Linked DNA regions of Homo sapiens: regions 2, 3 and 4 are each reported to be linked to region 1. The links are microRNA targets in miRTarBase. Many come from high-throughput screens and were not tested one by one. Region 1 holds a microRNA gene; each other region holds the end of a gene's coding sequence.
Evidence for each region. The annotated mature microRNA hsa-miR-455-5p reads UAUGUGCCUUUGGACUACAUCG and lies in region 1 at 841-862, shown strand. An mRNA with a match to its seed (bases 2 to 7 or 8) in the 3' UTR can be bound and repressed. Matches are read on the target gene's strand: a 7mer-m8 pairs with bases 2 to 8, a 7mer-A1 pairs with bases 2 to 7 and ends in A, and an 8mer does both.

Region 1 (3,108 bases):
ATTCCACCAAGAGTGGCACGCAGATAGTGGTAGAAGCCCCGGGCGAGGTTACTGCCCTTTAGAAGTTCCCAGGCTAATGAGGACGTGAAGCATGAACACAAATAATGAAGATACAAGGGAGAAAGTGGAGAAGGATGCTACCGAGGTGCAAAAATGGCACTGGGGATGGGGGGGAGAGATTGCTTCCGGCTTGGGGTATCAGGGATGCTTGCCCAAGGAGAGCGCTTATGAGAGCTGGGCTTTGAAGGATTTGGCTCAGAAGTCATGAGGGATGGGAAGGACATGCCTGGTGGAGGGGACAGAGTGAGGAAAGGCTGGGAGGGAGGAAATGAGATGCATCCTAGGGAAGAGCCCCAGAATGGTGACGAGCCCCAGCTGTGGAGTCAGCTGGCCCTGGGTGACCCTTGAACTGATTAGGAATTCCCGAAGAGAATTCACAGCTCCACTACTGACTAGTCGTGTTGCTTTATCTACAGAGCCTCAGTTTCTTTGTCTGTCCAGTGTGGGTGGTGACAATCTGGGGGGTCCTTGTGAGAGTCTAATGTGGTAGCATGCATGTGCCTGGCACAATGTTGGCACTCCGGGTTCGCAGCCGCTGTTAGTTAATGCCAGCACTCAGGCGGCCAGAGGTGGATGTAAGCCCTACATCCAGGACCTTGAAGGCCTAGGAGGAGCCATGGCAGGAGCCACGGGCACCTACCAGCATCCCTGGGGGTGGGCAGGGCTTGGTGCCGTGCTAGCATCTAACCCAGCCGCGAGCTTCCTTCTGCAGGTCCTGGAGCCCTGGCGTGGGGCGGGCCTCCTGCCGGCGAGCGCCTGCGCCCTTCCCTGGCGTGAGGGTATGTGCCTTTGGACTACATCGTGGAAGCCAGCACCATGCAGTCCATGGGCATATACACTTGCCTCAAGGCCTATGTCATCGAGGAGCCACCGGAGCTGCCACTGCCACCAGGGAGGAAGAGGAGGAGCCGGGATGTGGGATGGCAGTGGTGGGTGGGCTGCGGCAGGTTGGGCCAGCCACACCTCACTGCTTGACCGCTCTGACCCCCTTTCTTCTCTTTCCTAGGGCTACATTGGGCTCCCAGGGCTCTTCGGCCTGCCAGGGTCTGATGGAGAACGAGTAAGTTTGCTTCTTTGGTTATTCACCATCCACAGCCACCCCTGCCCAAACAGAGCAGAACCTGCCAGGCACCAGCCTGGGGAAGTCAAGGAATTCCTCCTGGAGGAGGTGCACTTGAGTCGAGTAGGAGTCTGATAAGGGGACAAGTCAAGGCAGATGCATTCCAGGCATAGGGAACAGCATGTGCGAAGTCAGGGATTTACGGTAACTTGGCGAGTTTAACACTCAACACTGCCAAAGTGCTGCGTGAGAGGGTGAGAGTGGTGGGAGTTGAGGCTGGAGAGGACCCTGGGGCAATGTCTTAGGTGCCCAGGACTAAGGTTAGAAAAGGAACTCTGTTCTGAGGGTATGCGGAGCCTCTTGAGGACTTGCAACCAATGAACACCGGGCCCACTTTATAATATAGATCAGGGGTCTGCAAACGGTGGCCCATGGGCCAAATCCAGCCAGTTGTCTGTTTTTGCAAACAGTTTTATTGAACTCAGCCTTGCTCATTTGGTTACATATTGTCAATGCCGCTTTCTCACTACAATGGCAGAGTTGAGTAGGTGTGACAGAGACCGTATGGCCCACAGAGCCAAAGATATTCACTATCTGCCCCTTTCCAGAAACCATCTGCTGATTCCTCTTTTAGACAGATCAGTTGGTTTACTTGAGTAAAATGTGTTGGTTGGGGGTGGGGACAGCAAGAGCAGGTGGCAGGAGTTCCAGCAGCCAGGGGGAGCGGCTGTCTGGGGAAGGTGGTGGGACTGGTTTGGTGGTGGGCAGTGGGTGCTAAGATTTCCTAAGACACCCTGTCCTTCCAGACCAAGTATCTAAGTCAGAGGAGTCCAAAAGATGGTGTGGGAGCTTCTCACAGACCCCTGGCCCAGCCTGGAGGTCCATTAGAAGCCCCTGGGGTGGTGGCCTCGGGATCTTCCTCCCCGCCCCCTCCCAACCTGAGCCCGTATCTATGGGAACTCACTTGTAACCTCCATAAGCTGGGTATAGAGAACCTTAGGACAGCTGGAGCCTGAGCATTTATGAAGCACCTGCTGATTACAGGAACTGGCATTTCTCTGTCTCTTAGGTCACCACAGACCCCGACCCTGCCATCCGTCTGATGTGCATGTCACTGGGGCCGCCACGCAAGTGGCACACATTCCAGGCCCTCTGTGACTTCCTGCCGTGGGTGGCTCTGGGCTGGTTTGGGGCAAGCCTGGCTGTCCCTGCTGGCATCCTGCCCTGACCTCTCCCCTGTCTCTCCCCTGCAGGGCCTGCCTGGCGTTCCTGGCAAGAGGGGCAAGATGGGTATGCCGGTAAAGATTTTCCGTGTCTATTACGCAGACTCTAGCGGGGAACCCCACCTCCCACGGCCACGCTGCCCTGGCCACCTGCTGCCTGGCATCTTCTGCTTCTCCCCCTGCTTTGAGTGTGGGGGCCGCATGTGGGGTTGTCTGGCCACAGGACCTGCTGCTGGCACACGGCGTGACTGGGGCCTGGCTGGGGCTGGGGCTTCCATGGGCTCTGGACCCCTCTGGGGTAGCTCCTGTCTCCCTGTGGGCATCAGTGGCTCTCCAGTGCAGTTCTGTGTCTGGGGGCTTCTGTCTAAGGTATTTGTGTCTGTGGGTCTGCTGTGACCGGGGGACCTTGGCTAGACCAGGTGACTCTGCTCCCATCTCAGGGAACACTCAGTCTCCACATCGTCTTGGTGTCATCCGGCTCTGTCCAGTTTGCTCATGCACACGCAAAGCCAGAGGACAATGGGGTTTATGGGCAGTGCCCACAGCAGGCATGACCGAAAGAGGGGCTCAGCGGTGACCCCCAATTCACCAGCTTTCTCTATGGCTCCCCATCATGGGAGGAAATTGTTTTTCCCTTTGTTTGGACATGTGCAGAACATGGAGAAAGAGCCAAGGCACGGAGAGATTAAGTCACTTGCACGATGAGTAAACAATGCAGCCAGGATTGGAACTCAGTTGGTTTGTTCCCGGTGTCTTTGATCTCAG
Region 2 (3,108 bases), not on the chromosome of region 1:
GAATAATAAGGGCTCTTGGAGTCATTTAGCACAAGGGTTTTTCACCTGCATTTAGAGAAAAAAAACAAAACACAGATCATAGGTCATATAGCTGCCAAAAAGATCTTGTCTGTGTTGGTAGCCCAGACTCAAGTTCCAGCCCTGTCACCCCCAGACTGCTCTGTTTCTGGCCCCAGGCCTGGCGTTCATGGCGGCTGAACTCATGGTCTTTCCTGTCCCCTTCTTTTCCAGTTCTCAGAGTACATTCACGCCCAGGTGGCATCTGGCAAAGGGAAACTCGCTCCTGGCTTTGATGCTGAGCTGATTGTGAAGAATATGTTCACCAACCAGGACCGGAATGGAGATGGGAAGGTCACAGCCGAGGAATTTAAACTCAAAGACCAGGAAGCCAAACACGATGAACTCTAAACCTGGCATGAACCAGATGGTGCCAGGGAGTACGTGACACCAAGCCACCTGTGTGGCAAGACGTGCAGTGAGGGTGCAAGGGTCTCTCAGAAGTTGCATCATTAGCCAGTAGTAGGTGGGTCACATAGTACCTGGTGTACACATCGGGGTGGGTTGATATATGGGGTGAGAAGTTTGGGCTGATCGCCAGTGATAGTAAACAAAATCTGTGCAGAGGGCCTTAGCATGGGATGTGTCCAGTATTGAAAAGGCTGCACTGCCAACCATGATTTGTGAGCCTTCTGGGAAATTTTGTTATTAAAGGAATATATAGTGTCAGACGGAAGTTATAATCATCTTGGAGGAACCATAAGAAAAGGTGTCCAGGGTATCTATATAAAGAGGGTTAAATTTTTTTTTAACTTGCTGGTTAAAACATTTTAGAAATATTCTAGAGATGGGCAGGAGAGTCAAAGGGCTTGCTTGCCCCAGCAGAGTTCCCAGCAGACAGCCATGGCTCTTCCCAGCAGCCTGTGCAAATTCTGATGATGGCCCCACCCCCGCACACGCACACGCACATCATGCTTTTCCAGCTCATCACACCCCGCCCCACTATGGGCCTACCATTAATAGTGTATAACTTGGAGGTTAAAAGAGCCTTTTGGACAGAAAACTGGGCCAGGAAAAGGCATCTCAGACCACAAATAGAGAATTTGATTCCTCATTTGCCACATAAGTCATCTGCTTAGCTTTTCCTTTCCTTTTTTTTTTTTTTTTTTTTTCTGGAGGCAGAGTCTCCCTTTGTCGCCAGGCTGGAGTGCAGTGGTGCCATCTCGGCTCACTGCAGCACTGTCTCGGCTCACTGCAGCCTCCGCCTCCCGTATTCAAGCGATTCTCCTGTCTCAGCCTCCTGAGTAGCTGGGACTACAGGTGTGCACCACCACGCCCGGCTAATTTTTGTATTTTTAGTAGAGACGGGGTTTCACTGTGTTGGCCAGGATGGTCTCAATCTCGACCTCGTGATCCGCCCACCTTGGCCTCCCAAAGTGTTGGGATTACAGGCGTGACTCACCATGCCCAGCCACTTAGTTTTTTCTTATTCCCACCTTTCTATCCCATAGAACACTCTTTTTTATCTTCCCTGAACCATATTGATGAGATAAATAGGGCTGGGGGCTGGGCCCCGCTGGTCACTCAACAGAGTATTTCCCTTGGCCGAGATGGAAGTTTTGTCCCAATAGATGAGCTGCTGAGCATCAACAAGGTGACATTTTTCTGCTGCCCATTTGTGTCCTGGAGACGGTGGTACCCTGAAGGCAGAGGCCAGCTGCCGCAAGACAGCAATGACAGTCCACCTGCCGACCTGATTCCTGCATCATGGAATAACCACATGGCTACCTTCTATCCTCTGTTCCCAAATGGTGGTGGCACTTATCCTGAAGTCGTCAATGATTTCCCTTTGAAACTACTTTATTTTACTAATTTAAACTATTTTGTACTGATGTAGCCCTGAGGTAGTTCATGAAAATGCTGTGCACTCATTCCATGGAATAAATGTTGGAAAGCTGATCTTTTCTGATATAAAATGTTGAATGATATTATCTGGTTTTCTGATATTTTATTGGAAGGCTGAAGACCTATGAGAATGCACCATGCAGTCAGAATCCCCTTGATGAAAACAGCAGGACTTCACTGCATTTACTGAGGGAGCGCACTCTACTTATAGGGAGTGTCAGTCAGGGTCCTGGCCCTCCTCTGGGACTCCTGAAGAGAAGCTAAGGAAAGGACTGTTTAGAGGGGTGTGGGCGAGGCTGGGGGAACTGAGGCTGTTGAGTGCCAGTGACAGCAGTGTTGGCCACCGCAGGAGGCTGCTACCACCAGGGCCTGAGAGCTCAAGAGGAGGCAGTGGGAGCAGCACAGGAAGGGCTACCTGGAGGCGTAACAGAGGGATGCAGCCAGCTGCATCTGACAGTGCGGCTGACACTGCAGCAGAGCGAGGGACAAACGCCCCATCCCCTCTGTGCCCCCATTCTCTGATGCCTGCCACTGGCTCCCATTAGTGGAACCATGTTGGAAGCCAGAGGGTAAGAGGAGCTCAGAGACTGGAGTTCTCAGAAGTCAGCCTCTTGAGTGCAGAGAAAGGTGGAGAATGAATCTGAGGTAGGGATGGGGTGGGTGGGAGCAAATGGAGAATTACTGGCACATGTATAGAGAAACTGTGTGTGTGTGTGGTGCAATTATATATTTAAAAGCAATTATTTTAATATATATTAATAAACATAAAATATATGTATTATATATACATAAAGTTGCTGTTAAAAAGCAAATGTTGGCCATGTGCAGTGGCTCATGTCTGTAATCCCAGCAGTTTGGGAGGCTGAGATGGGTGGATCATTTGAGGTTCAGGAGTTCAAGACCAGCCTGGCCAACATGGTGAAAACTCTTCTATACTAAAAATACAAAAAAAAAATTAGCCGGGCATGGTGATGGGCGCCTGTAATCCCAGCTGCTCAGGAGGCTGAGGCAGGAAAATTGCTTGAACCCAGGAGGCGGAGGCTGCAGTAAGCTGAGATGGCACCACTGCACTCCAGCCTGGGAGACAGAGCAAGACTATGTCTCAAAAAAAAAAATTTTTTTTTTTTTTGCTTCTTGCTAAGTTGAATTGGGCTTTGGAATGCATTTGACTTCATTAGCCTTACCCGCCTTATGAAAAGAAAAACC
Region 3 (3,108 bases), not on the chromosome of region 1:
TATCAAAAGTTGGTAAAAGGAATAGCTATCTAAAAAACATTTTTGTTGGAAGATATTGTTCATTATATATTTGTTTGATTTTATTGTTCTTTAGAGTTTGTCTTTCACTGTTAGCAAAAGATGTAGTACAAATGTTTAAATATGCATGCCCTCTATATTTAGAGCACTTACTAGGTACTGTGTTGCTAGTAAAATAGTCAAAGTGGAGTCTTTTTTCCTGTGACTAGCTTGCAGTTTTAAGAAATTAATACATTAATATGTTGTTTCTTAATTTGTTCTAGCATTTGAAACAACAACAGGAAGGCCTTAGCCATTTGATTAGCATCATTAAAGACGATCTAGAAGATATAAAGCTGGTCGAACATGGATTGAATGAAACCATCCACATCAGAGGTGGTGTCTTTAGTTGACAGTTCACAAACTTGTGTAAAGGTTTGTGAAATGCATCTTCTTACTGCATCAGACCTTCCTTAAGAATGAAACCGACCACATGGAGGGAAAAAGAAAACAATTCTTTCTTGGATTGGTTTTTTGAGAAGTTTACTGACAAATTACTGTTCATCAAATCTGAAATAGTCACCTCACAGCTCTTCAAAGAAAACCTTTGAAAGATTTATATCTAAAAGCTGTATTTACTTTAAAAGAAGTGCATAATTACCAAAATTGTATGTACTATTGTACATTTTTACAACAGCATTTTCTTAAACATAATCTGTGTTTAATGATTATTGTCCATTGAGCCTGTACTCTGCTTTCCATACCAAGTAAATATGAAATAATCTACTTTGCACATAACAGAACAAACTATAATTACTTGGCTGTTGGAGATTTGTACTTGAGTATAAATGTACACCAGTTTTTGTATTTGTGAACTCATCTGTGGGAGGAGTAAAGAAAATCCAAAAGCATTTAATGTTTTGTTTTTGTTCTATAAAGATATGAAAATGTATTTTTATATTATTTTACTTATTTGGAATTTACAGAGCACACCTAAGCAATTAGGATATAACAAAACTACTTAACCATTTTTGCAACCATTTTGTTTTTTAAGCCTTTTTATTTCTAAAAAGATGAAAACTTATAAATAAATTCTTAATTTGTAATTACTTTTATATAATTCTGTCTGGTGCTTTATTTGGCTTTTGAGGAATGACCATTTTTTGTCCACATAGGTACTAAATTCATAATCACAAGTCAGGAATTTTAGTCTTAAGTCTTATTTTTGCCTCCTAGGGATTTTTGTCAGTGCTGTTATATTTTGATTAGGGTATGGCAAGTAAAACTTACTTCAGATATCATCTAGTATTAAGAATTCCCTAATATGTCATTAGTATTCGAAATACTAGAAAATCTGAGTTAAACAGATTAAGTAGTGTTAAATAGTGGGTCTTTAACCAGTGGATCATTTTAAACAGTATTTCTGACTACACTATATTTGGGCTGCATCATGTTGGCCGCTTTTGAGATGCTTTAACTTTGCACTTCTCTGTGATGCTTTGGCTTGTATTGACAGGTGTTAGAAGAAACAGGCCCATGAATCTTGCTATTGTATTTACTATGGGGATGGTGAAGAGTGTGATGCACTGTATATCTATCTGGAGTCCATCCTCTGAGAATCCACTGAAGAGATTTCTCCTCAGTTGTATAGGTTACAGTTGTGTAGACTAGGATTTTTTGTGGGTTTTTTTTTTTTTTTTTTTTTTTGAGACAAGTCTCTCTGTCACCCAGGCTGGGGTACAGTGGCACAATCACGACTCACTGCAGCCTTGACCTCCTGGGTTTAAGCAGTCCTCCCACCTCAGACTCTTGAGTAGCTGGGACTACAGGCATGCACCACCACAACTGGCTATTATTTTTTATTTTGTGTAGAGATGGGGTCTTGTTATGTTGCCCAGGCTGGTCTTGAACTCCTAGACTCCAGCAATCCTCCTACCTTGGCCTGCCAAAGTGCTAGGATTACAGGCCTGAACCTCCATGCCTGGCCAAGACTAGGAACTTTAAAACTGATTGTTTCTTTCCAAATTGACTGCCAGAAGTATGCAGCTACTTTTGCCAAGTTTATGGTGTGTAAATTTGTTACACTACTCTACTACCCTCTCATCATTCTTTCCTACCCATTATATTGCAATACCAACAGTGTTGGGACAGGAATTTCTTGCCTTGTCCACATTTTCTCCGTGGCCCAGAAGATCTGCATGTCCATCATTCTTACCCATGTAGCCAAGTATAGGAGTTTTTGTCCCTCTGCACACCCCCTTATAGTAGGAAGAGTTGTTGGTCTAATTGATGAGAATTGTTACTCACTGAGCTATATAATCTAGTGGATGGATCACTCATCATGCATACCATGGTCGCTTCTCTAGCCTTTGATTTTTCATGTTCTAATATTGCTGGTTGCTAGTTCAACCAGATAAATATACCAGACAGGGCCTAAGGTCAGCCTTTTAAAAAGGCAGGCCCAGTCATCCTGTTGGGTTTCTGTCCCACTGGTGACTGCATATATAAGGCAGGCCTGTGGTCCTTGAGCATATAACTGGTGAGATAACTAGACTCAGTTATCGAAGCAAGTGTTATAGACTGAGTAGTTTGTGTTCTCAAAAAATTCATCTTGAAATCCTAACACTCAATATGGTGATTTTAGGAGGTATGGCTTTTGGGAGGTCATGATGAGGGTGGAGCCTTCATGAATGGGATTAGTGCTCTATCTCTCTTGTCCCTTCTGCCATGTGAGATGGTGAGGAAAGGACAAGGAAGAGGACACTCACCAGAAACTAAGTCTGCTGGCACCTTGATCTTGGACTTCCCAGCCTCTGGAACTGTGAGAAATAAATAAATGTTGCTTACAAGTTACCTAGTCTACAGTGGTCTGTTACAGCAACCCAAACAGACTAAGACAAAGAGATGAGTAGACTATCCTTAAAGTTCTAATTCAGATATTAAATTGATGTTAAACACTAACAGTATTGAGCATACTGGCAATTCTGAAATATCTAATCAAAATCTTTTATTGAATTTAATCAGAAGTATACAGTTTTCGGGATTTTTTTCCATTGTAAGAGTAGTATACAAGTGAAAAGTTCTGTGACATATATCTGGACCAACTTTCTG
Region 4 (3,104 bases), not on the chromosome of region 1:
GGCGGAGTTTCGCTCGTTGCCCAACCTGGAGTGCAACGGCATGATCTTGGCTCACTGCAACCTCCGCCTCCCGGGTTCAAGCCATTCTTCTGCCTCAGCCTCCCGAGTAGTTGGGATTACAGGCACCCGCCACCATGCCCAGCTAATTTTTGTATTTTTAGTGGAGACGGGGTTTCACCATGTTGGCCAGGCTTTTCTTGAACGCCTGATCTCAGGTGATCCGCACCCTTCGGCCTCCCAAAGTGGTGGGATTACAGGCATGAGCCCCTGCGCCCGGCCCAGAGTATTTCTCTATAACAAATCCATGCTTTCTTTTAATTTTAAACTAGGCTCTTTATACTAAACATGTTTTTTGTCTTTGACTTTCTGCAATAAGAGGAACCACACAACTTCCAGAAGTCTTTACCGGCTTTTATGTTAAGGCTTCAGTGTCTCATGCTGCTAGGGAAGATAAAGCTTTTGTAGGTCTATGGTTCTTAAGGGTATGATACTAAATCTGAGCAGAAGGGTGGCATCCAGGCAAATAGGGCAGAAGCTAGGTTATTATTTACACTGACTGTTCTTTTTCCCTTCCATGCAGTGCTCTGGTCTGGGGTCTCTCTGTGAAACACAATCCTCAGAAAGTGGGTAAAGACCATACGTTGGAGGATGAGGATGTCATTCAAATTGTGAAGAAGTGAAACCTTTCCCTTTTCCCATCTGCCGGACGAACCACAACAGCGTTCCCCATGATCAAGCACCCTACCCCAGTTCTTTCTGGTTTTGGCAGTCACTGGATCAGGATCCAGGGGAGGGAGATGGAGGCACCCAAACTGGAACTTCATTTGTCTTACCTTGGTGTCACCTTGTATGTCGAACTGCATAAAAGATCTGGTAGGCTGGTCAGCTACATGCAGCTCATGTGTCATTGTCAGAATTTGTTTTGGGATGGGCTGAATGAGGAAGGGTATATACGGTGAAGCAGCTACAGAAGGGATCCTTGGGAACTTCATCTTGAGTGTGAAATGGATAAAAATATGACATGCTGCATCTTACTTGATGTTTACTTATGGGAACCCCTTCCAAACTAGATATGGCTTTCAGTCCTTTCAAGTAGTCTTTCCCACATGATACTGGAGAGAGGAAGGACTTTATGTAAGTTAATTGATCACTCCCCGCAAGGCTAACCTATTTTGGGAGATCATGTAATTAAGTACTCCGACCAGGCAGATCAGGGTTTGAAATTGCAGGTCCACCTCTAGTTAGCTGTGGAGCCCTGAACAAATTACCCAACCTTTATGAGCCTCAGTTTCCTCATGTAACATGGGGATAGTAATAGCACTTACTTTCTGCGGTGGTGATTGTTAGTAATGGAGGGAGATGGTACTTATATGTCAAATACTGTGCTAAGCAATTTGTAAGTACTCAATGACTCTTGGCTTTTGTTGCACCGAGCCTTTTACTGGGCTGTCTGCCCTATGCAGAGCACAGCTGTACATCATCAGTGTTGGGTTGAATGTTGAGCTGAACTATGTTGCCACCTGGGCCACTAAAATGCTTTTTTCTTTTTCTTTTTCTTTTTTTTTTTTTGAGATGGAGTTTCGCTCTTGCTGCCCAGGCTGGAGTGCAATGGCATGATCTCGGCTCACCGCAACCTCCGCCTCCCGGGTTCAAGCGATTCTCCTGTGTCAGCCTCCTGATTAGCTGGGATTACAGGCAGGTACCACCATGCCCCGCTAATTTTGTATTTTTAGTAGAGATGGGGTTTCTCCATGTTGGTCAGGCTGGTCTTGAATTCCTGACCTCAGGTGATCCGCCTGCCTCAGCCTCCCAGAGTGCTGGGATTACAGGTGTGAGCCACCGTGCCCGGCCAACTAAATGCCTTCTTTCCCATAACCCAGACTTTCTGCTTGAATCCCCATGAAAGTCCTGGCTTCAGCCAATAACTTGGGCGAAGGTGCATTGCAAGTGAGGCAACTGGTGTGATCAAAGCAGGTTTGTGTGTTCACATATGTGTATATATGGAGGTGGGCGGTTTAGGAGGAGGCTTGGTGTCAGGACTACTTGAGAGGATGCTAAGGACATAATCAGATATTTGGGGGACTAGGAATATAGGAATTTAAGGGGATTGCTCTGATTATGTGAAACTGGTTGATGAAAATCTTGGTGTGGTGGGTAACAATATGGACGGAGGGGGCTGGGCCCAGTAGCTCACACCTGTAATCCCAGCACTTTGGGAGGTCAAGGCAGGAAGATCGCCTGAGCTCAGGAGTTCGAGACCAGCCTGGACAACATAGCGAGGCCCAATCTCTACAAAAAAATTTAAAAAATTAGGTGGGCATGGTGGTGCATGCCTGCAGTCCCAGCTGTTCGGGAGGCTGAGGTGAGGACTGCTTGAGCCTGGGAGGTCCAGGCTGCAGTGAGCTAAGATGGGCCACTGCACTCCAGCCTGGGTGACAGAGTGAGACCCTGTCTCCAAGAAATAAAAATTAAATAATTAAAGAATATGGGCAGAAGGGAGGGTATGGACATGTAAGTATGGGGGAGAAATCTTAAACTTGTTAACTAACTTGCTCTTGGGAAGAAGTCAAACATTATTTCAGTATGGATGGAGTAGTCCCTGAGAAAATCAGGAAGAATAGGTTTGCAGCAAGACAGAATTTGATTATTTCTTCAAATGAGGCAAGCCAGAGCTTTTAGCAGGTCATGAGTGATCACAGTGTGGGATTATTCACATACTCAGCCTCTCTCCAGTGCTTGTTTCTCCTGCTGCCCTAATAGCAGTTGTTTCCCTTTGATAGTCTTCCTGGAGCTTGGGCTTGTCACTGTCCCCAGACCTGGAAGGTAAGCTCCTGAAGCCTGGTATGCTAGTTACTTTTCAGAATATCGGCCTTGATACCACTGGTGCATTCATGATAGAGGCCGTGGTCTAGAGCCTGCCCCAACCCTGCAGGGGAACAGGGAAACATTGGCTTTCTGAGCTACGGGATTTCCAGGAAGGTTTGTTCTCCAGCCAGAACATATTGGGTTTCTGGGGACTCTTCTTGCCAAAATTCACTTTCATTGAGCAAGCATTTAGCACTGCCAGAATGTTGGGGAGAGAAGGTTGCTGAAATCCAGTTCAT

Region 2: miRTarBase lists FKBP9 as a target of hsa-miR-455-5p. The part of its 3' UTR that is shown has no 7-base or 8-base seed match.
Region 3: miRTarBase lists NUP54 as a target of hsa-miR-455-5p. Seed matches in the 3' UTR shown: 7mer-A1 at 788-794.
Region 4: miRTarBase lists DRG1 as a target of hsa-miR-455-5p. The part of its 3' UTR that is shown has no 7-base or 8-base seed match.

Annotation. Positions count from the first base shown.
Region 1 is chr9:114,208,609-114,211,716 of GRCh38, forward strand. It overlaps MIR455 (microRNA 455), which reads left to right and starts at 826; the gene lies at 826-921. It overlaps COL27A1 (collagen type XXVII alpha 1 chain), which reads left to right. Exons shown (of 61, transcript NM_032888.4): 11 at 1,067-1,120; 12 at 2,374-2,418.
Region 2 is chr7:33,004,944-33,008,051 of GRCh38, forward strand. It overlaps FKBP9 (FKBP prolyl isomerase 9), which reads left to right. Exons shown (of 10, transcript NM_007270.5): 10 at 232-1,985. The coding sequence ends at 408. Among named protein-coding and RNA genes, the nearest start is that of FKBP9, 49 kb to the left of the region's middle.
Region 3 is chr4:76,112,668-76,115,775 of GRCh38, reverse strand. It overlaps NUP54 (nucleoporin 54), which reads left to right. Exons shown (of 12, transcript NM_017426.4): 12 at 282-1,112. The coding sequence ends at 410. It overlaps ART3 (ADP-ribosyltransferase 3 (inactive)), which reads right to left. Exons shown (of 12, transcript NM_001130016.3): 12 at 2,990-3,108. Among named protein-coding and RNA genes, the nearest start is that of NUP54, 34 kb to the left of the region's middle.
Region 4 is chr22:31,433,292-31,436,395 of GRCh38, forward strand. DRG1 (developmentally regulated GTP binding protein 1) reads left to right here. Exons shown (of 9, transcript NM_004147.4): 9 at 581-1,161. The coding sequence ends at 680. Among named protein-coding and RNA genes, the nearest start is that of DRG1, 35 kb to the left of the region's middle.